7 linked regions of the Homo sapiens genome follow. The protein of the gene in region 7 purifies or fractionates together with the protein of the main gene of each other region. This does not show direct contact. Each region holds a gene or a part of one and is shown on either strand. Other genes may lie near its edges.

Region 1 (2,714 bases), on a different chromosome or scaffold from region 7:
CTGTCATCAGTCGGCTGTGCCTGCCTTTAGGGAAGCTGTCACTGTCAATGTCACTCCCTCCGTTGAAAAAAACAGCTCCTAATGGCCAAGAAAGGAATGTGCGGCCTGGAAACTGAGTGACGGGCAGGGCCCTGGGAGGGACCTTCTCTTCCCTCAGTCAGGGCTGGCCTCGAGGAAAGGCTGGCCTGGTGTGACCTGCAGCTTGTGGCAGCTGTGAGGCTCCCTGGTGGAAGGAGACTGCCTGGGCATGTCCCCTGGCACTGGATCTGCCTGGGCAGTTCTTACCTGGTGCTATCCCTATCGTCGTCCTGGGGGCCATGCCCTAGCAGGAATTTTCGAGGCTGGGACCTTCTCTCCAGCTCCTTGCTCCCTAGATCTAGAATGCGGTAGCTTTCCTGGTCCGTGGGGTCCCCTTTTCAACGAACAAGTGATTGTAATGTCCTCCTCTTCCAGCGGATGGCCCCAAGGCTCGGAGCTCATTTGGAAACAGTCCTAAAGTTCTGGAATCCCATGTTTTTAGCAGCCCCAAGCCCTGTGACGCCAGAGACTAATTTCATCTCCTTCCCTGCAGAACCCCAAGGAGTGGACCAAGAAGGTCATCAGGAACATCGCCTGCTCGGGCAAGTTCTCCAGTGACCGGACCATCACGGAGTATGCACGGGAGATCTGGGGTGTGGAGCCCTCCGACCTGCAGATCCCGCCCCCCAACATCCCCCGGGACTAGGCACACCCTGCCTTGGCGGGACCAGCGGGCATTTGTTTTCTTGCTGACTTTGCACCTCCTTTTTTCCCCAAACACTTTGCCAGCCACTGGTGGTCCCTGCTTTTCTGAGTACCATGTTTCCAGGAGGGGCCATGGGGGTCAGGGTGGTTTTGAGAGAGCAGGGTAAGGAAGGAATGTGCTAGAAGTGCTCCTAGTTTCTTGTAAAGGAAGCCAGAGTTGACAGTACAAAGGGTCGTGGCCAGCCCTGCAGCTTCAGCACCTGCCCCACCCAGAGTGGGAGTCAGGTGGAGCCACCTGCTGGGCTCCCCCAGAACTTTGCACACATCTTGCTATGTATTAGCCGATGTCTTTAGTGTTGAGCCTCTGGATTCTGGGGTCTGGGCCAGTGGCCATAGTGAAGCCTGGGAATGAGTGTTACTGCAGCATCTGGGCTGCCAGCCACAGGGAAGGGCCAAGCCCCATGTAGCCCCAGTCATCCTGCCCAGCCCTGCCTCCTGGCCATGCCGGGAGGGGTCGGATCCTCTAGGCATCGCCTTCACAGCCCCCTGCCCCCTGCCCTCTGTCCTGGCTCTGCACCTGGTATATGGGTCATGGACCCAGATGGGGCTTTCCCTTTGTAGCCATCCAATGGGCATTGTGTGGGTGCTTGGAACCCGGGATGACTGAGGGGGACACTGGAGTGGGTGCTTGTGTCTGCTGTCTCAGAGGCCTTGGTCAGGATGAAGTTGGCTGACACAGCTTAGCTTGGTTTTGCTTATTCAAAAGAGAAAATAACTACACATGGAAATGAAACTAGCTGAAGCCTTTTCTTGTTTTAGCAACTGAAAATTGTACTTGGTCACTTTTGTGCTTGAGGAGGCCCATTTTCTGCCTGGCAGGGGGCAGGTCTGTGCCCTCCCGCTGACTCCTGCTGTGTCCTGAGGTGCATTTCCTGTTGTACACACAAGGGCCAGGCTCCATTCTCCCTCCCTTTCCACCAGTGCCACAGCCTCGTCTGGAAAAAGGACCAGGGGTCCCGGAGGAACCCATTTGTGCTCTGCTTGGACAGCAGGCCTGGCACTGGGAGGTGGGGGTGAGCCCCTCACAGCCTTGCCCCTCCCCAAGGCTGGCAACCTGCCTCCCATTGCCCAAGAGAGAGGGCAGGGAACAGGCTACTGTCCTTCCCTGTGGAATTGCCGAGAAATCTAGCACCTTGCATGCTGGATCTGGGCTGCGGGGAGGCTCTTTTTCTCCCTGGCCTCCAGTGCCCACCAGGAGGATCTGCGCACGGTGCACAGCCCACCAGAGCACTACAGCCTTTTATTGAGTGGGGCAAGTGCTGGGCTGTGGTCGTGCCCTGACAGCATCTTCCCCAGGCAGCGGCTCTGTGGAGGAGGCCATACTCCCCTAGTTGGCCACTGGGGCCACCACCCTGACCACCACTGTGCCCCTCATTGTTACTGCCTTGTGAGATAAAAACTGATTAAACCTTTGTGGCTGTGGTTGGCTGACATGGGGTCTGTGTTTCACTAACTAACTAACTAACTGCAGGTGGTGGTATGAGACTGTGGGAAGCAGAGAACACAGGCCTGAGGCCCAGGGTGGTGCCAGTGCAGGGATGAGACCTGCAAGTGGGCCACAGGTCCCCCGTCTGAAACTAGAGCCGGGGCTGAATTACACCCCATCATTCTGGGATTGAGGGCAGAAAAGTTTGCATCTCCACTAGGTGTGGAACCCGGGGTCATGTGTGCCTGAACGGCTAGTTTTGTTTTTTTGTTTTTGAGATGGAGTTTTGCTTTTGTTGCCCAGGCTGGAGTGCAGTGGCACGGTCTTGGCTCGCTGCAACCTCCGCCTCCTGGGTTCAAGCAATTCTCCTGCCTCAGCCTCCCGAGTAGCTGGCATTACAGGCGCCCACCACCACACCCGGCTAATTTGTGTATTTTTAGTTTTGCCATGTTGGCCAGGCTGGTCTCAAACTCCTGACCTCAGGTGATCCGCCCGCCTCAGCCTC
Region 2 (3,500 bases), on a different chromosome or scaffold from region 7:
GACTGAGCAAGACTCTGTCTCAAAAACAAACAAACAAACAAAGAAGCTGTTTGAGTCCTTTCTTTCAATTCTCTTGGTTCATACCTAGGAATGGAATTCCTGGATCATGTAGTAATTCTATGTTTAGCTTTTTGAGGAACTGCCACAGTGATCTGGCTGTTTGTTCTGCATTAATATTCAAAGGTCACAGATTCAAACATCCAGAGGGACCGGATGGGGTGTGTAACATGACCACAGGGCTTGTCCTAAGACCCAGCCACCTCCCCTCTGCAACTGAAGGTTGCCATGTGGAAATGGTATTCTCACGTTGCCAGGGGATACTGGAATTCTAGTTTTTGTTGTTGTTCATGGCAGTTAATCCAAATATTCTAAACGATACTGCCTGGGTAACAGAAAGCATCTCTGTGGACCAGCAGTAAAAGAAAAAAAATCCAGACCGGGCACAATGGCTCACACCTGTAATCCCAGCACTTTGGGAGGCCGAGGCAGGCGTATCACTTGAAATCAAGAGTTCGAGACCAGCCTGGCCAACCTGGTGAAACCCCATCTCTACCAAAAAATACAAAAATTAGCCTGACGTGGTGGCATGTGTCTGTAATCCCAGCTACTTGGGAGACTCAGGGAGAATTGCTTGAACATGGGAGGTGGAGGTTGCAGTGAGCCGAGATCACGCCGCTGCACTCCAGCCTATGCAACAGGAGACGCCATCTCAAAAAAACAAAAACAAAAACAAAAAACCTTCTGGTAGTTCTGTGATATATCATGACTTCTGTGTCTTTACATCCTGGTAGAGGGGGAACGTCCGGACCTAATCATTTTCTATGTGTGATTTTATATATATATATTTAATTTTAGTCTAGGTGCAGTGGCTCAGACCTGTAATCTCAGAACTATTGTAGGCCATGGGGAGGATCGCTTTGAGCCCAGGAGTTCAAAACCACCCTAGGCAATGTAGAGGGATCCTATCTCTACAAACATAAAAATAAAAATGAAAACATTATCTAGGCATGGTGACGTGTGCCTGTACGCTCAGCTACTTGAGAGGCTGAGATGAGAGGATCACTTGAGCCCAGAAACTCCAGGCTGCAGTGGGCTACGATTACACCATTGCACTTCAGCCTGAGTGACACAGCAAGATGCTATCCCTTTAAAAAATAAAAAATGAAGAAAAAGTAAAATAGTAGGCCAGGCATGGTGGCTCATGCCTGTAATCCCAGCACTTTGAGAGGCCGAGGTGGACGAATCACATGAGGTCAGGAGTTTAAAACCAGCCTGGCCAACATGATGGTACCCTGTCTCTATTAAAAATACAAAAAGTTACCCGGGTGTGATGGTGCACGGCTGTAGTCGCAGCTACTCGGGAGGCTGAGACAGGAGAATCGCTTGAACCCAGGAGGCGGAGGTTGCAGCGAGCTGAGACCATACCACTGCACTCCAGCCTGGGTGACAGAGCGAGACTCCGTCTCAAAAAAAAAAAGGTTTTGCTACCTTCTTGCTCATTGGTTGTTCATTTATTTCTCAGGGCTATCTCAGTGCCTAGAATTTTCTTTGAAGGAACTGAAGACCTTTGCTTTATTTCCATGATCCAGGGGATCCTGCAGGCCCCCAAAACGGGGTCCCTGCTTCATTTCATCCGGTGTAGGGGGTGCTTCCAGAGGTCTTTGCCAGACCCCCAGGGCACTGGCCTTTGCCCCAGCTGTTCTGAATGGTAGCCTGACCTGGCAGCCCATGCTGATGCTTTGTGGGGTGTTCTGCAGTTTGTAGATGCGGACAACCTGATCCTCAACCCTGACACACTGAGCCTGCTCATCGCTGAGAACAAGACGGTGGTCGCCCCCATGCTGGATTCCCGGGCTGCGTACTCCAACTTCTGGTGTGGAATGACTTCCCAGGTAGAGTGAGGGCCTGGGGACTGTGGGGACTGGGCTGAGCAGGGGGGTGCCGTGGCTAGAGTGTAACTTACTGTCACACAACCTCGTGGTGTGTGTTTTACAAAAATCATCATGGAAGCTGGGCACGGTGGCTCACACCTGTAACCCCAGCACTTTGGGAGACTGCGGCAGGCGGGTTGCCTGAGCTCAGGAGTTTGAGACCATCCTGGGCAACATGGTGAAACCCCATCTCTACTAAAAAAAAAAAAAATTACAGAAATTAGCCGGGTATGGTGGCACATGCCTGTCCTCCCAGCTGCTCGGGAGGCTGAAGCATGAGAATCACTTGAACCCAGGAGGCGGAAGTTGCAGTGAGCCGAGATCACGCCACTGCACTCCAGCCTGGGTGACGGAGTGAGACTTGGTCTCAAAAACAAAACAAAACAAAAACTCATTATGGTAATCTTTAAACAGCCCTCTGAGGCCAGACAGGAGGGAAGAATAGAGGGTCCTTGATTGTCCCCCACCATGCTATTCCAGAGGTGGAAACAGAAACACAGAGAGGAAGTGACTTGCCTAAAGTCACACAGCTAGCAAGTGGTGGTGTCAGGATGGGACTTCAGGCATGGCTTGATCCAGGTGTTTGGATAACTGTCTTTCTCCATCCTTTGGGTGGGTTCATTCTCAGACAGCTTGAGAGTGATCCCAGCAGCGTCTAGCCATCATCCATTCTGATTGGGCCATTGCTAGTCTCCTCTCCACACTACCTCTGAACTCATTACTGAAGCTGGGAAAATACAAGGCTCTTTCTTATTGGCCATGCCTGGCCACAGGTCCCACACTGGGCTTGAGTCTGGGGTCCTGGGACCACAGGCGCACACTGCTGTGCCTGGCTGTCTGTCTGGTCCTGTTTCATGCCGCCCACTATCACGGGTCTCCATCCTCACCTTTCAAGACCCCTACGCGGAACTCTCGCTCTCTCCCCACAGGGCTACTACAAGCGCACACCTGCCTACATCCCTATCCGCAAGCGAGACCGCCGGGGCTGCTTTGCAGTTCCCATGGTGCACTCGACCTTCCTGATCGACCTGCGGAAGGCGGCGTCCAGGAACCTGGCCTTCTACCCACCTCACCCTGACTACACCTGGTCCTTTGACGACATCATCGTCTTTGCCTTCTCCTGCAAGCAGGCAGGTACGTACATGAGGGGTCTGCCATCGCAGGGGCATCTGCCTGGTTCTTTGGGTTTTGCACTAAGCCAGTTCAGAACACACTGAAGATTCACAGAACCCAAACAATGCAGCGCAGGGCTGACTTCAGGTGCAGCTGTATCTAGGTGTTCAGATAATGTCTCCAGGACCCCGTTTCTCTCCAGCCCTGGCTTTGCTGGTTAGCTTCATTCCCTAGCTCTTTAAGATCTATTGGTTGGTCAGGCAGAGTGGCTTATGCCTGTAATCCCAACAATTTGGCAGGCTAAGGCGGGTGGATCATTTGAGGTCAGGAGTTTGAGACCAGCCTGGCCAACATGGTGAAACCCCATCTCTACTAAAAATACAAAAATTAGCCGGACGTGGTGGTGCTACTGGGGAGGCTGAGGCGGGAGGATCACTTGAATATGGGAGGCGGAAG
Region 3 (2,177 bases), on a different chromosome or scaffold from region 7:
CATCTCCTCACCCCAACCCTATCTCCCTGTGCTTCCGGTAGAGGGGCCTGAAGTGATATGGTGGGACAGATTAATACATTCTGAGAGTACAGGTTGGCATCTGCCTGTGGCTAGGGAGAGAGACCCTTAGAGCTGTGAATCCTGATGTTCAGGATCTTTGCACCACAAGGGTTAAGGAAATGTTTTGCAGTTGTCTTTTTAAAAACATTAAGCACATTTGTGAAGCCTTCACAATTATATCTTTAGAGGAAACCAGAGGAAGAGAGTCCCCGGAAAGATGATGCAAAGAAAGCCAAACAAGAGCCGGAGGTGAACGGAGGCAGTGGGGATGCTGTCCCCAGTGGAAATGAAGTTTCGGAAAACATGGAGGAGGAGGTGGGCAGTTAAGCAGGGCTTAGCCTCTTGCCTCATTCCTTGTTCTCAGGACCTGGGGAAATCAGTCCTCTCAAGTGCATGCTCCCCACCTTGAGCCTGCTAACGATTGTTGAGTGCAGTCCTCACAGAAAACGGTACTTGTGCAGGAAAACAGTTTGGTTATGGGAGTATAGGATGACTCACTGACAAATGGAACCTGTATATTATAGGTCCCTCGATGAATATATGAGAAGGCACTTGATGGGCAAAACCATTAGGTCACTTCCTTCCACGTGATGATTATTGGCTCTGTCAGCCCCATTATCACAGAGTATTCAAGAAATACTTTGTGGTCACTGCCCTCTTAATATAGGGAGCAAAGCAGAGTTTGGGTGACTTGTATATGCTTCCTATGACTGAGGCCTCAGTTATATAAGACAGAATGGCTTAAACTAGGCTCACTCATGCCCAGGTTCTGTTTGTCTTCCAGGCTGAGAATCAGGCTGAAAGCCGGGCAGCAGTGGAGGGGACAGTGGAGGCTGGAGCTACAGTTGAAAGCACTGCATGTTAAGAGGGGGCACAGCCCTCCTCCCAAGGGAAAGTGTTTTTGTATATAATGTATTTTTTCACTTTTGGAGGATTCTTTTTGTATAACTTCAATAAAGATTGTAAGCAAAGGTTGAGGCTTTGATGGTTTTTTTCTTAATTATTGGCTGAATCTGCCTTGGAGCACTGCTGGTTTTATATATTAGCCAAAGGTTTTGTTCTGGCCTTCTGTACTGATCTGTGTTCCTGATCCTAATTCCTATCTGTCTAACGTGGAGGTGATCAAGTGTGGCTGTAGGCCTTTGTTTTCCAATGGTGCTATATTCTGTTTTCAAACACTTCACTGAACCCAGCTGTCTTGCAAACTTTCAGTGGTGCTGTCCCTGGATGGGGGCTACAAAAACAAGAATTGGTGAAGATCTTGCTCTTCAGTGCTGAAAATGGATGATGGACTTTGGCTGTGAGCCAGGCCTAGGATGGTTCTTGTCCTATATCCACCTAGTCTTCACCTGGGGCTATAATTCTGTCCTGGAAAAAGAACTCTGAAAACCTGGGTCAGGGGAATGATTCCTAAGGAAAACGGTCTGCATTTGAGCTCTGGTTTGAAAGTAGCCAAGGGGACTGATGGTGGACACTCCAGATGTGGTTGGAAGCATATGTGGGGAGGCTGGCTGGTTGAGTTTTGTTATTTTCTGTATAGAAAGGTTGAGATATATCAACACTTGGAATTGTTACCCATCTGCAGAATTGACTTCTCAAATAAAGATGCTAAAAATCTCCTTGTCTGGAATTATGTTTAAAGATCTTAAGTGGGGTCTTAGGCTGCTTTTTTGAGATGGGATCTTGCTCTTGTCGCCCAGGCTGGAGTGCAGTGGCGTGATCTCGGCTCACTGCAACCTCTGTCTCCTGGGTTCAAGAGATTATCCTGCCTCAGGAGGCTCCCAAGTAGCCAGCACTACAGGCTAATTTTTGTATTTTTGGTGGAGACGAGGTTTCACCATGTTGGCCAGGCTGGTCTCGAACTCCTGACCTAAAGTGATCTGCCCACTTTGGCCTCAGGAAGTGTTAGGATTACAGGCGTGAGCCACTTCACCTGACTGCCTGGAGCATTTCTGTGTGCGATAGAGGGTTTCAAAGGCAGAAACGAGCCCACCAGTCCAAGGATGCTGGTGGTGAGGGCACTAGTATTAATGTTAGACCTGTTGTGCTCTCACTGGTGTCTAGGGGTCAGGGCTCACTTGAGACTGAACTGCCTCTGACCTGACTCTAAGTACCAG
Region 4 (3,500 bases), on a different chromosome or scaffold from region 7:
CTACAATTGCAGGCCATGGCTGATAAACAAAACAAAACTTTGAACAACAAAAGAGGCCAGTAATTAGCCTCTATGGCACCCAGCATCCAGAAGGGAGCTGAATGCATCCAACCAGTGCCGTCCAGCTGATCAGCCTCTGAAATTTGTAAAGCACTGTGACACATACCTTATCTCTTTAATCTAACCACCTACTTGACAAAGTTGCTGGAATAGGGAAAAATGAAGTCCAAGGCAGTCAAACACTATCCAAAGTCATACAGCTAGTGCACCACAGACAGGGGCTAGAGCCCAGCTCTCTTGGCATTAAGCCCATTCTCTGCCCACTGTACCTCCTTGACATCACTTCTGGCCACTCCTCATCTTGGGCCCCATAATGAGGTTTATAACTGGATAACTAAGCACAGTATAGGGGGATGGTGGGAGTCGAGGGTGAGTCTCTCCTGTCTTCCTGCAGAACCATCTAAAACAGCCCCCAAGAAAGAAATGGTTACAAGAGCCTATGAAGAAACTTAAGCCCATCTCTACAAAAAATAAAACATTAGCCAAGCATGGTGGCACACGCCTATCGTCCTAGCTACTAAGGAGGCTGAGATGAGAGAATTGCTTGAGCCCAGGAGTTCAAGGCTGCAGAAAGCCACGATCATGCAGCTGCACTGCACTCCACACTGGATGACAGAACGAGACCCCGTCTCAAAAAAAAAGAAAGAAAGAAAGGAAGGAAGGAAGGGAGGAAAGAACTAAGTATCAGAAAACAGAAACTTGTATTAGAGATGAAAATGCCAACTACAAATCAGCATGGACAGAGTATTTAAATCATGGTCCAGCCAATGGCAGACTTTATTTAATACAATGTTCTGGCAATTGAAGACTTTAATCATTTCCTTACCTGGAATCAAAGAGGGTGCCATCCAGAAGCGTGCCATTGTAATGATACCTGAGAAAGTCCCCACTTTGACTTATCCGCTCACAGTTTTCAGGTACTACCTTGTTCTCAATGGAAATGCTGTCCTTGGGGTTATGGAGGTCCAATAATGCAACATCAAACACCAGAGATGCCTGACCGGGAATGTCTTTCCCTAGAATGGAATGGGAGAAGATGATTAAACGGGACACAGGATTTAGGAAGTACTTTACAACTCAACAGGCTTGGGGTTGGTGTTATTCATTTCTTGAGGTTTTGAAGCCAAGGAAACAAATGTTCTTCCAGGTCTTGAATGGGCCCCCATGGTGTCCAACCATGGGCTGATGGTATAATCTAAAACCTGACTCAGCAAAAGGAGAAAATTGGTATTAATGACATAAGAGACTACCATGACCATATTTTCTGGACTCATGCTGGAAAATCAAGGCTTTATGTAGGTGGGCAGGCACCCACAGGCAAACCCAAATACATACCTCTGTGGGTTTCTGTTTGTGAATAAATGCAAACCACAGACATTTAAAGGAGAAAATTCCAAATCTCTGGTCTGGTTCTGGAGAACTGTACACAGACTTGTTCTTTGAAACGAACGGCCAATTTTTTAGAGGCAAAAAGTAAAACTCAATGCTTTAAGTATATCCAAAGCAAGATATAAATAAGATGAAAGCAGAATAACAGAGAAAAAAATGGCACCCACAATCCAAAATATAAATAAATAGTCCTCAAATCACTTCTATCTCACTTCTGGGTAGTACTGCTTCTCTTGGATGTTCCTGCCAGTGGGAATATTTTGAATATCTGCAAAATGAAATCCACATGAAGAGATTACAGGACACTAGTTCTTCCTGCAAAGATCAACATCAACCAATAAATAACTCAAAATCCAGTAATTTGGGATAGTAGAAAGTTAACCAACAAACCAATCCCTCAGTTTTACCTGCCATTTGTTATATCATGCAAAGGAGTAGGCCCAGACAAGCAAACCAGATGCCGCCAAGCCTGAGCTCCTTCCACTGGCCTTTGGCAAAGCCCACCCTGCATCTCCTTCCCATCCAAGGAATGATGAAATCTGCTGAAAGCCGGCTGCTGAGTCAGCCCCTGGAATGCAAGGTGTGGTCAATCCCTAAATCGCATGCGTGGGAGATAGAATATTAATCTTTTGTGCCTTACTGTATCTTTTCATTTAAGAGAAAAATGAAAGCCTTAAAAGTAACCATGGGGTTTAAATTTTTCTTTTCTTTTTTTTTTTCTTGAGACGGAGTCTCGCTCTGTTGCCCAGGCTGGAGTGTAATAGCTCAATCTTGGCTCACTGCAACCTTCGCCTCCTGGGTTCAAGCGATTCTCCTGCCTCAGCTTCCCGAGTAGCTGGGATTACAGGCACCTGCCACCACGCCTGGCTAAATTTTGTATTTTTAGTAGAGACGGGGTTTCCCCATGCTGGCCAGGCTGGTCTTGAACTCCCGACCTCAGGCGATCCACCCAAATCAGCCTCCCAAAGTGCTGGGATTACAGGCGGCAGCCACTGCGCCCGGCCTGGGGTTTCAATTTTTCTAGCATTAATGTGTACTAAATGAATAATGTTTTCTATAGCAACTTTGCAGAGATATAATTCACATACCATACAGTTCACCCATTTAAAGTTATACTTGGATAGCCGAGCACAGTATTCAAGTATAAAGTATTCAAAAATAACTACTCTAAATAAGCTATTATTTATTTAAAGTAAAGAAATAATATTTCTCATATTAGGCTCACATCTGGTTTTGTTATGTGGCTGATGACAAAAGGATCTGGGAGCCAACGTGAATGAACTTCTTGGGGCCAAGGACAAGACCATTTGAACATCAATAAGAAAACAGTAACTGCCAGGCACAGTGGCTCCCACCCGTAATCCCAGCGCTTTGGGAGGCTGAGGTGGGAGGATCGCTTGAGTCCAGGATTTCCAGGTAAGCCTGGGTAACGTAGCGAGACACTGTCTCTAAAAAAACTTTTTTAACTAGCCAAGCATGGTGGCACACGTCTGTACTCCTAACTATTCGGAAGGCTGAGGCAGGAGGATCACCCAGGAGTTTGAGGTTACAGTGAGCTATGATGGTGTCACTCCAGTCTGGGTGACAGAGTGAGACCCTGTCTCTAAAAATAATAATAACAGTATCTTATATCTCAGTGGGGGGGAGAATTAAGACATATTTATGGCACTGCTTTAAACTTTATTTTTCTTTTAGTAGGGAATTCCACCCCTAATGCTCTGTTTAAGAAACCATCTGCAGATCCCCAGCATGTAAAATATATAAAAGTGGGCCAGGCACAGTGGTTCACACCTGTAATCCCAGCACTTTGGGAGGCCGAGGTGGATGGATGGCTTGACCTCAGCAGTTTGAGACAAGTCTGGCCAACATGGCGAAATGCTGTCTCTACTAAAAATACAAAAATCTGCCAGGCATGGTTGCATACGCCTGTAGTCCAAGCTACCCAGGAGGCTGAGGCAGGAGAATCTCTTGAATCCAGGAGATAGAGGTTGCAGTGAGCCGAGATCGCACCACTGCACTCCAGCCTGGGCAACAGAGTGAGACTCTGTCTC
Region 5 (3,500 bases), on a different chromosome or scaffold from region 7:
TGTGGACAGCAGGGACATGTTGGGTTGGTAGGGGTGGAGGGAATTGATAAAATGTACCATATTGACTTATGAGTGGATAATGGTTGTAAAAAAACCTAAATAATTCCAAATAAAAGCTAACTGTTACTGAGCATTTGCTGTATGTTTCAGGTACTGGGATTAAATGCTTTACATGTATTTTTCTCATTTAATACTTGCCCTATGTGGACTATACTCCCTTCTACATATGAATAAATTGAGGCACAAAGAGATTCTCTAACTGGCCCAGGGCACAGCTAGTAAGTGACACAGTTGGATTCAGAACAAGGCAATCTGAGTCTAGAACCTGTGTTTTGATCCACCTGTATCAAAAGTGACTGCTTCCCTCCTCTCACCTCACAGGTGGTTTTTTTCTCTCTCTCTTTTTTTTTTAAAGAGATGGGGTCGGCTGGGCGCGGTGGCTCACGCCTGTAATCCCAGCACTTTGGGAGGCCGAGGTGGGCGGATCACGAGGTCAGGAGATCGAGACCATCAGGGCTAACATGGTGAAACCCCGTCTCTACTAAGAAATACAAAAAAATTAGCCAGGCGTGGTGGCGGGCGCCTGTAGTCCCAGCTACTTGGGAGGCTGAGGCAGGAGAATGGTGTGAACCCAGTAGGTGGAGCTTGCAGTGAGCCGAGATCGCGCCACTGCACTCCAGCCAGGGCGACAGAGCGAGACTCCATCTCAAAAAAAAAATAAAAATAAAAATAAAAAAAGAGATGGGGTCTTGCTCTGTTGCCCAGAGGGGAGTGTGGCGGTGCGAACATAGCTCATTGCAGCCTCAAATCCCTGGGCTCCGGTGATCCTCCTGCCTTACCCTCCTGAGTAGCTCAGATACAGATGCATGCTACTATCCCTGGCTAATTATTTAATTTTTTATAGATACAGGGTCTCACTATGTTGCCCAGTCTGGTCTCAAACTCAAGAGCTCAAGCAATCCTCCTATCTCAGCCTCCCAAAGTGCTGTGATTACAGCCATGAGCCACTGCACCTAGCCTTCCCAGGTGGTTTTGTGTGTATTTTGGAGATTCTTTTTTCTTTTTTTTTTTTTTATACTTTAAGTTCTAGGGTACATGTGCACAACATGCAGGTTTGTTACATATGTATACATGTGCCATGTTGGTGTGCTGCACCCATTAACTCATCATTTACATTAGGTATATCTCCTAATGCTATCCCTCCCCCCTTCCCCCACCCCACGACAGGCCCTGGTGTGTGATGTTCCCCTTCCTGTGTCCAAGTGTTCTCATTGTTCAATTCCCACCTATGAGTGAGAACATGCGGTGTTTGTTTTTTTGTCCTTGTGATAGTTTGCTGAGTTGGAGGTCCTTTTTTCAATGCAAAAATATATATTTTTTATAAAATGAGATCATACTCAACAGATTGTGGCCTTCAGTTGTCAGTTGTCATGAAAATCTGCCTCATCCTTTTTGAAAACAATAAAGTATTCGTCCTGTGGTCTTTTGCATTTCTGGGTATTAGCATGTCGCTCTCCCAGCATGTCCTACCAGAGTTTACTCTCACCAGTGAATGGGAACCCATCGTTCAGTGTAAGTCTGTATTCTTCCGTCTTTTATTTAAGAGCTGATTCAGAAGAGCTGGCATGCTGGGTGAACAGTTTTCTCCCAGAAGCCCCGGCTCTGCCCAGGAGAGGTGCTTCCACGGCTGCACCCACCCTGGGGCTGCCAGCCTCAGCGCCTGGTCTGACAGGCAGCAGTTTTGGAAAATGAACTTGAGTCCCCAATTTTCCTGGCACAGTGTGAAATAACTGGAAATGATTTTATTGTCTGTCGCTGCACCCCAGCCCCAGGAACAGAGATGGGCCCCTGGGAGGCCCCCATGGCCTGGCAATAATTGGCCTTTTCCCTCACAGGAGTGCTACCTGGAGGGTGACCAGACGAGCCTGTACCACGCAGCCAAGGGGCTGATGACCCTGCAAGCTCTGTATGGAACGATCCCCCAGATCTTTGGGAAAGGAGAATGCGCTCGGGTGAGAACCGGCTGCTTTGTGGTGGTAAAGGAGGGCCCTTCACACCCCAAAAGGGAGGAGGAACGGGAAGCTCCTTACAAACAAATTCAGTTGATCTTAATTATTTATGAATACTGTACTCATGAATTTGCCTACTGATTAAAATGCACTTATAACCCTCCAAGTCAGTACTCATGGTGCTTTTGTCGGCGTGCACAGTGGTGACAGTTTGAGTAACCACTGCGCATGTTCCCAACTGAGGCAGCTGACACTCCACCTTCCCATTTCAGCTCTCAGACTGCAAACAAGTGTACTTTTCACAGTCTCACTGTCATATTTTCCACACGTGTGTACTTTTTTTGGTGATTTCACTGTTTAAAATGGCCTGCAAATGTAGGACTGAGGTGCAGTCGGGTGTCTTGTGCACAAGAAGGCTGTGGTGTGCCTGGCGGAGACATTACGTGTGTCAGAGACGCTTCGTTCAGGCACGAGTCACAGAGCTGCTGGCTGTCAGTTCAGTGTGAGTGATCAACAATTATGTTAAGTCAGGCATCTTTAAGCAGAAACACATATAAAACTGGGTTACGTATTGATCAATTGACAGAAACGTTGAGACCAGAGGCTCCCAGGAACCTAAGTCTGCGTTTCTCCTAGGAACAGTGGTTCCATCTTCGCTAATTTAGTGTTTGCAGTGACTTCATAGAACATAACTACTGCGAATCACAAGAATAGACTGACCTGATTTTATGCCTCATTGGCAAATGGCAGCTGCCTTGGTGCAAGTGTCGGGATGGGTGCCAACAGCAAGGTGCTTTTCTAGAGCTGCTTATTTCTAAGCAATGCACTCTTCCAGTTTTTCTCCTTTTTTACTTTTTTGATTGTCTTTCTGGTTTTAGACAAATTTTAAAATCTGCTTGTTCCCAGGGGGGCCCCACCTCATCCAATGTTTTGTTTCCAGCAAGTGGCCAATATGATGATCAGGATGAAGAGAGAGTTTACAGGAAGCCAGAATTCAATATTTCCTGTTTTTGATAATCTCTTGTTGCTTGATCGGAATGTGGATTTATTAACACCTCTTGCCACTCAGCTGACATATGAAGGACTCATTGATGAAATTTATGGCATTCAGAACAGTAAGTACATGACATCTGTTTTCACTAATAGGTAATATGAGAAGAATATCCTTTGTGGAGGCTACTGTTTGTATATTGCACACTTAAGCATAATTTAAAGTCAGAGATCCGATTTTAATGATTCAGAGTGTAGATTAATACAGACCTTTTTGTAAGCAATTTAGCAACACATAAAACTTTTCTAACCCTTGGCCAAAGAAAACCCAAAGCCTAAGAATGTGCCTTGAGGAATCATTCCAAAAAAGAGGATCAGTGAGGTTTGCATAAGAATTTCGATTTCCATTTTCTTACCAGAATTTTCCAAACAATCTCAGTGGTTGAGTACATTATGAAATATTATGGAACCACCTGGGTGTGGTGGCTCACACTTGTAATT
Region 6 (3,500 bases), on a different chromosome or scaffold from region 7:
ATGCTTCCAGTATCAGGAGGACATGGGGCCACGGGCGTCCCTGAGCCGGCTCCGGGAGCTCTGCGGCCACTGGCTGCGGCCGGCTCTGCACACCAAGAAACAGATCCTGGAGCTGCTGGTGCTGGAGCAGTTCCTGAGTGTGCTGCCTCCGCACCTCCTGGGCCGCCTGCAGGGGCAGCCGCTCAGGGATGGGGAGGAGGTGGTGCTGCTGCTCGAGGGCATCCACCGGGAGCCCAGCCACGCGGGGCCGCTGGTGAGAGGGTGGGGCAGCGGGCTGAGCAGCATGCGGATGATGGGGACTTGATCCCCCCAGTGAGGAATCTCTGGAAACTTCACTTTCCCCCACCTGACCATTCCTTCTTCACCTCCTAACTCCTCCCCTGGCTGACTCTAACCTCGTTTCTGTCCCATGTCCCCTCGGAGTCAGGACACAGGTTGCCACCCCGGGAGTCACTTAACTTGAATGTGTTTTGAACAGGATTTTAGTTGTAATGCTGGCAAGAGTTGTCCCCGTGCAGACGTCACCTTGGAGGAAAAGGGGTGTGCTTCCCAGGTCCCCAGCCACAGCCCCAAGAAGGAATTGCCTGCGGAAGAGCCTTCAGTGCTGGGCCCATCGGATGAGCCTCCCCGACCCCAGCCAAGGGCTGCCCAGCCTGCTGAGCCGGGACAGTGGAGGCTTCCCCCAAGTTCAAAGCAGCCGCTGAGCCCGGGGCCCCAGAAGACATTCCAGGCCCTGCAAGAAAGCAGTGAGGAGCTTGTGCCCTAGGAGGCCAAGGACTGGGTGTCGCGGAGGGGCCTGGATGTCTGGGGTGGGGTGAGAAGTGGGGCCTCCCCAGGTGACCAGGACAGGAGAGCGCCAAGGTGTCTTCACAGGGCCCGGATGATGCGGTGTGTGTCCTTGCAGCCATATGGCAGGCAGGGCTGCCTTCTAACAGCACTTCCTCCCCTCTTCCCCAATGCCGTCAGGTCCCCAGGGCCCCTCACCATGGCCAGAGGAGAGTTCCCGAGATCAGGAGCTGGCGGCTGTGCTGGTGAGCTGGGCCGCACCCCAGGGTGTCCTCAAGCCCCAGGAACTTCTCTACCCTGTAGTTTTAGCAAATCCATACCTTCCCTGATTCAGTCCTAGGAAGCATTTCAGTCCCCACAGGTTCCTGAGGCATGTTCCTCACTCACCAAGGGTTTCTGCTCTTGATACAGGAGTGCCTGACCTTTGAGGATGTGCCAGAGAATAAGGCGTGGCCTGCACACCCCCTGGGTAAGCAACCCTTCCCTGGAGAAGTGACCACTGATGCCTCTTTCTTTTCTTGTCTTTTTTAAAGAGATGGAATCTCGCTATGTTGCCCAGGCTAGTCTCCACTCCTGGGCTCAAGTGATCCTCCCACCTCAGCCTCCCAAAGTACTAGGATTACAGGCATGAGCCACCGTGACCGGCCAACACCTCTTTCTTTGCCTGAAGCTCCAGACCCTACCTGACTTTTTGGCCTTTTTGTTTTTTGAAACAGGATGTTACTCGCCCAGACTGTGGCACAATCATGGCTCACTGCAGCCGGGACCTCCTGGGCTCAGGTAATCCTCCCACCTCAGCCTCCCGAGTAGCTGGGACTATAGGTGTGTGCCACCACGCCCAGCTAACTTTTTGTAGAGAGGTCAAATAAAAGGGCACCCTTGTTTGACCTCCACCCTCTCTACCAACCTACCAGGTTTTTTTGTTTGTTTGTTTGTTTTCAGACAGAGTCTCACTGTGTTGCCTAGGCTGGAGTGCAGTGGAACCATCTCCGCTCACTGCAACCTCCGCCTCCCGGGTTCAATCGATTCTCCTGCCTCAGCCTCCCGAGTAGCTGGGACCACAGGCATGCGCCACTACACCCAGCTAATTTTTGTTTTGGTTTTTTTTTTTTTTTTTTGTAGAGACGGGGCTTCACCATGTTGGCCAGGGTGGTCTTGAACTCACTCCTGACTTCAAGTGATCCGCCCGCCTCGGGCTCCCAAAGTGCTGAAATTACAGGCGTGAACCACTGTGCCCGGCCTTTTACCTACCAGCTTTGCAGGATCCTGGGTTTCTTTCCACTTCCAGGCCAATCAGGTTCTGGTGATTGATAGTGGCCCTGGGAATAGGCCTGACCGTCCCTGTTTTGTCTTGTTTCCCAGGATTCGGAAGCAGAACCCCAGACAAGGAGGAATTTAAACAAGAAGAGCCCAAAGGGGCTGCCTGGCCCACTCCCATCTTAGCAGAGTCCCAGGCAGATAGTCCTGGGGTGCCGGGAGAGCCTTGCGCCCAGTCGCTCGGACGGGGCGCTGCGGCTAGCGGCCCTGGTGAAGATGGGTCCCTTCTTGGCAGCAGTGAAATTTTGGAGGTCAAAGTGGCTGAGGGCGTCCCCGAGCCCAATCCGGAGTTGCAGTTCATCTGCGCGGACTGCGGGGTGAGCTTCCCGCAGCTGTCTCGCCTGAAGGCGCACCAGCTGCGCTCGCACCCGGCTGGGCGCTCCTTCCTGTGCCTTTGCTGCGGGAAGAGCTTCGGCCGCAGCTCCATTCTCAAGCTGCACATGCGCACTCACACGGACGAGCGGCCGCACGCCTGCCACCTGTGCGGCCACCGCTTCCGCCAGAGCTCGCACCTGAGCAAGCACCTGCTGACCCACTCCTCCGAACCCGCCTTCCTGTGCGCAGAGTGCGGCCGCGGCTTCCAGCGCCGCGCCAGCCTTGTGCAGCACCTGCTGGCGCACGCCCAGGACCAGAAGCCGCCCTGCGCTCCTGAGAGTAAGGCCGAAGCGCCGCCACTGACCGATGTCCTGTGCTCCCACTGCGGCCAGAGCTTCCAGCGCCGCTCCAGCCTCAAGCGCCACCTGCGGATCCACGCCAGGGACAAGGACCGCCGGTCCTCCGAAGGCTCCGGCAGCCGCCGCCGGGACTCCGACCGGAGGCCCTTCGTGTGCAGCGACTGCGGCAAGGCCTTCCGGCGCAGCGAGCACCTGGTGGCCCACCGGAGGGTGCACACGGGCGAGCGGCCCTTCTCCTGCCAGGCTTGCGGCCGCAGCTTCACGCAGAGCTCGCAGCTGGTCAGCCACCAACGGGTGCACACGGGCGAGAAGCCCTACGCCTGTCCGCAGTGCGGGAAGCGCTTTGTGCGCCGGGCCAGCCTTGCCCGCCACCTGCTGACCCACGGTGGCCCTCGGCCCCACCACTGCACCCAGTGCGGGAAGAGTTTCGGCCAGACCCAGGATCTGGCCCGCCACCAGCGCAGCCACACGGGCGAGAAGCCCTGCCGCTGCAGCGAGTGCGGTGAGGGCTTCAGCCAGAGCGCCCACCTGGCGCGCCACCAGCGCATCCACACAGGGGAGAAGCCCCACGCCTGCGACACCTGCGGCCACCGTTTCCGCAATAGCTCCAACCTGGCCCGCCATCGCCGCAGCCACACGGGCGAGCGGCCCTACAGCTGTCAGACGTGCGGTCGCAGCTTCCGGCGCAACGCGCATCTGCGGCGGCACCTGGCTACCCATGCG
Region 7 (3,500 bases):
CAGTGGTTCACAGGAAACCACTAGAGGAGAAAATACCCCCAAACCCTTGATTGAAGGCTTTTACATCCCCCCACCACCACCCAGCTGCAGCAGGCCAAACTTATTTCAGTGGTTTCTATCCCAGCCATTTCCACTTGGATGCCACCACTTTTATGTGACTTTTATAGCATCAGTCATTTCTGTCTTTTATTATTTATTTATTTATTTTGAGACAGGGTCTTGCTCTGTTGCCCAGGCTGGAGTGCAATGGTGCATTCTCAGCTCACTGCAACCTCTGCTGCCCAGGCTCAAGTGATTCTCCTGCCTCAGTCTCTCAAGTAGCTGTGACCACAGACGCATGCCACTGCGCCCCCCCAATTTTTTTTTTTTTTTTGAGATGGAGTCTCACTCTGTCACCCAGGCTGGAGTGCAGTGGCGCGATCTCGGCTCACTGCAACCTCTGCCTCCCAGGTTCAAGTGATTCTCCTGCCTCAGCCTCCCAAGTAGCTGGGATTACAGGCACCTGCCACCATGCTTGGCTAATTTACTTTGTATTTTTAGTAGAGACAAGGTTTTACCATGTTGGCCAAGCTGGTTTCGAACTTCTGACCTCAGGTGATCTACCTGCCTTGGCCTCCCAAAGTACTGGGATTACAGGCATGAGCCACCATGCCCAGTCCCCACTAATTTTTGTATTTTTAGTAGAGTCAGGGTTTCACCATGTCACCCAGGCTGGTCTCGAACTCCCGAGCTGAGGTGATCCACCTGCCTCAGCCTCCCAAAGTGCTGGGATTACAGGTGCAAGCCACTGCACCTGGCCGTGTCTTTTATTTATAATTATTAATTTCTTTTTGCCTTTATTAGAGTAAAAACTTTTCAAGGATAGAGGATGCACCTAAAAGATACTTGTAGCCCTCAAGGTACCTTGTACATAATATAAACTGTTAAGTGAGTCAGTTTGCTTGGGCTGGGCGCCATGGCTCACGCCTGTAATCCCAGCACTTTGGGAGGCCAAGGCAGGTGGATCACCTGAGGTCAGGAGTTCAAGACCAGCCTGGCTGACGTGGTGAAACCCTGTCTCTACTAAAAATATAAAAAAGTAGCCAGGCATGGTGGCGCGTGCCTGTAGTCCCAGCTACTCGGGAGGCGGAGGTTGCAGTGAGCCGAGATCGTGCCACTGCATTCCAGCCTGGGTGACAGAGTGAGACTCCATCTCAAAAAATAAAATAAATTAAATTAAATTAAATATTCAACAAGTCCAAGGTTATTTCAGCTACCAGAATTCCAGAGAAATAGGAAGCCCTTTTAAAAATTCTTAATCTTTATGGGATTAGGATATCTCTGCTTTTTATGCTTTTTAAAAAATTTTGCTTTTTTTTTTTTTAATGAAAAAGGGTCTCATATCAACATGGTAGACGTACAGATAATTTGGGAACGAGTTTCTATGCAGCTTTCACTTAAGAAAATTTTTATTTAGACTACATTATTAACAGACTCAGGTGTCAATGGCAAAGAATATTTTGTTTTTGAAAGCAAATGGTTTATCTAAACTTAAATACTTTTGTGGTTTTGATTTAGAATACAATGATTTGAAGACTGAACTTAAAGACTATCTCAAGAGATTTGCTGATGAAGGCACGGTATGTTGAGTTAAAGAATTCTAATCATAGCCCTGTAAGTTTTGAATGAAGGGTTTATTTCCTTTGACGATTAAAAATGACTGCGACTGGCGGGGTGCGGTGGCTCACACCTGTAATCCCAGTACTTTGGGAGGCCAATGTGGGTGGATCACAAGGTCAGGAGTTCAAGACCAGCCTAGCCAATATGGTGAAACCCCATCTCTACTAAAAATACGAAAATTAGCCAGGCGTGGTGATGGGCGCCTGTAGTCCCAGCTACTAGGGAGGCTGAGGCAGGAGACTCACTTGAACCCAGGAGGCGGAGGTTGTAGTGAGCCGAGAACACGCCACTGCACCCCAGCCTGGGCGACAGAGCAAGACCCTATTTCAAAAAAAAAAAAATGACTGCGACTTAAGTGGGTACTTGAGAGTTGAATTCAGGGACTGTTTTGAGCAAATTGGCAGGCTAAGGGGAATGAATAAGAGGTAGTGAAACATCAGAGTTACATTGGCAGTCCTTACCAACCCCAGCTAAGCCGGGAAGAATGATGGGAGGGCGCAGTCCCACAGCCTCTGAGAGAGTACTTGTAGCTTAGCAGAAGGTCATTGGAAGGAATCCGCAGTACTGATTCTGCTGGTCCTGACCTTGAAGCATGGATCTTTGGGACGGGGAGGGGAAAATGACTGGACAGGAAAAATTAACACCAGACCCAGTTTCTGGAATTCTAAGTTCCATGGTTTAGAATAGAAACTGGGCATGGTGGCCGGGTGCAGTGGCTCACGCCTTAATCCCAGCACTTTAGGAGGCTGAGGTGGGTGGATCACCTGAGGTCAGGAGTTCAAGACCAGCCTGGCCAACATGGTGAAACCTTGTCTCTACAAAAATACACAAATTAGCTGGGTATGAGGGCGGGTGCCTGTAATCCCAGCTACTCCGAGGCTGAGGCAGGAGAAACGCTTGAACCCCACAGGTGGAGGTTGCAGTGAGCCAAGATTGTGCTATTGCACTCCAGCCTGGGTGACAGAGCAAGACTCCATCTCAAAAAAAAAAAAAAAAAAAAGAACTGGGCATGGCGGCTTGTACCTGTAGTTTCAGCTACTTGGGAGGCTGGCTTGAGCCCTGCTTTCTTAGAAGATGTCATCTCTGTCTACCTACTTTAGGTCATTTTTTCCTTTTTTTTCTTTTTTGGGGTGGGGGGCGTTCCTGAGTTTATTTGGGGCACACCCGGGCGAGGGCCCTGCCCCTAGAAGAACGTGTTGGGCCTCTTGGTGGTGAAGCGTGGCTTGGGCTGACGGGCAGGACCCGGTGGGGCAGCGGGAAACTTGATCTTGGAGTCGTGGAACTGCTTGATGGCCGGCCGGCTGGCGGCACTTGCTGGCTGCGATCTCCTTCACCTTCAGGATCTCGATGGAATGGGCCCAGGTGCGGTGCCAGGCGCCCATAGACCTCTCGGTAGCACTGGGTAACAGCGCCCGCGGTGGTCAGGTCCCGGTATTCCCGGTACATGTTGGGGGCGCCGCTCCGGGAGTCATAGCTCAGCCAGATGCCGAAGTTCTTGACCCGCGGTGGGGACTTCTCAAACACCTGCCCACAGTAGACAATCTCCCCTGAAGACTTCTTCATCTTTTTTAACTGAGATACGAAGTACCAGAAGTCCCGGGACTTGGCGACAACGTGATTAGGCGCAAAGATTCGCATGTGGTAGAGGGGCGGTGTGTGGCATTTGGGGGTGGGCAGGCAGTGACCCACCACCTTGTACTCTCATAGTGTGCCCGAGGCCTTCATGGCGTCCTCTCCGCGCTCGCCACCACCCGCAAAAGGTTAGGTCGTTTTTTTCTTTGTCATAGATGTGGGAAGAACATTTAACTGCCTGAATTTCTGGACAGGGTCACAGTGCTGCC

The links.
Region 1: the proteins of UBR7 (region 7) and PYGB fractionate together in Homo sapiens (co-fractionation; one large-scale study listed by BioGRID). This does not show direct contact.
Region 2: the proteins of UBR7 (region 7) and COLGALT1 fractionate together in Homo sapiens (co-fractionation; one large-scale study listed by BioGRID). This does not show direct contact.
Region 3: the proteins of UBR7 (region 7) and NASP purify together in Homo sapiens (affinity purification with western blotting; one study listed by BioGRID). This does not show direct contact.
Region 4: the proteins of UBR7 (region 7) and FKBP9 fractionate together in Homo sapiens (co-fractionation; one large-scale study listed by BioGRID). This does not show direct contact.
Region 5: the proteins of UBR7 (region 7) and VPS33A fractionate together in Homo sapiens (co-fractionation; one large-scale study listed by BioGRID). This does not show direct contact.
Region 6: the proteins of UBR7 (region 7) and ZSCAN10 purify together in Homo sapiens (affinity purification with mass spectrometry, with the first as the bait; one large-scale study listed by BioGRID). This does not show direct contact.

What each region holds. Positions count from the first base shown.
Region 1 is NC_000020.11:25,295,799-25,298,512, forward strand, and holds the end of PYGB (glycogen phosphorylase, brain form), read left to right. Parts: intron 1-571; coding exon 572-724; 3' UTR 725-2,214; downstream 2,215-2,714. UniProt on the Homo sapiens protein: Glycogen phosphorylase that regulates glycogen mobilization. Phosphorylase is an important allosteric enzyme in carbohydrate metabolism. Enzymes from different sources differ in their regulatory mechanisms and in their natural substrates.
Region 2 is NC_000019.10:17,565,649-17,569,148, forward strand, and holds part of COLGALT1 (procollagen galactosyltransferase 1 precursor), read left to right. Parts: intron 1-1,757; coding exon 1,758-1,892; intron 1,893-2,860; coding exon 2,861-3,065; intron 3,066-3,500. UniProt on the Homo sapiens protein: Beta-galactosyltransferase that transfers beta-galactose to hydroxylysine residues of type I collagen. By acting on collagen glycosylation, facilitates the formation of collagen triple helix. Also involved in the biosynthesis of collagen type IV.
Region 3 is NC_000001.11:45,617,217-45,619,393, forward strand, and holds the end of NASP (nuclear autoantigenic sperm protein), read left to right. Parts: intron 1-246; coding exon 247-375; intron 376-844; coding exon 845-925; 3' UTR 926-1,677; downstream 1,678-2,177. UniProt on the Homo sapiens protein: Component of the histone chaperone network. Binds and stabilizes histone H3-H4 not bound to chromatin to maintain a soluble reservoir and modulate degradation by chaperone-mediated autophagy.
Region 4 is NC_000007.14:32,977,940-32,981,439, reverse strand, and holds part of FKBP9 (peptidyl-prolyl cis-trans isomerase FKBP9 isoform 1 precursor), read right to left. Parts: intron 1,984-3,500; exon of another isoform or gene 1,864-1,983; coding exon of another isoform or gene 1,857-1,863; intron 1,077-1,856; coding exon 887-1,076; intron 1-886. UniProt on the Homo sapiens protein: PPIases accelerate the folding of proteins during protein synthesis.
Region 5 is NC_000012.12:122,249,495-122,252,994, reverse strand, and holds part of VPS33A (vacuolar protein sorting-associated protein 33A), read left to right. Parts: exon of another isoform or gene 1-133; intron 134-1,895; coding exon 1,896-2,012; intron 2,013-2,949; coding exon 2,950-3,124; intron 3,125-3,500.
Region 6 is NC_000016.10:3,089,295-3,092,794, reverse strand, and holds part of ZSCAN10 (zinc finger and SCAN domain-containing protein 10), read left to right. Parts: coding exon 1-253; intron 254-478; coding exon 479-746; intron 747-966; coding exon 967-1,031; intron 1,032-1,197; coding exon 1,198-1,255; intron 1,256-2,148; coding exon 2,149-3,500. UniProt on the Homo sapiens protein: Embryonic stem (ES) cell-specific transcription factor required to maintain ES cell pluripotency. Can both activate and /or repress expression of target genes, depending on the context. Specifically binds the 5'-[GA]CGCNNGCG[CT]-3' DNA consensus sequence.
Region 7 is NC_000014.9:93,220,756-93,224,255, forward strand, and holds part of UBR7 (putative E3 ubiquitin-protein ligase UBR7), read left to right. Parts: intron 1-1,557; coding exon 1,558-1,619; intron 1,620-2,793; exon of another isoform or gene 2,794-3,420; intron 3,421-3,500. UniProt on the Homo sapiens protein: E3 ubiquitin-protein ligase which is a component of the N-end rule pathway. Recognizes and binds to proteins bearing specific N-terminal residues that are destabilizing according to the N-end rule, leading to their ubiquitination and subsequent degradation.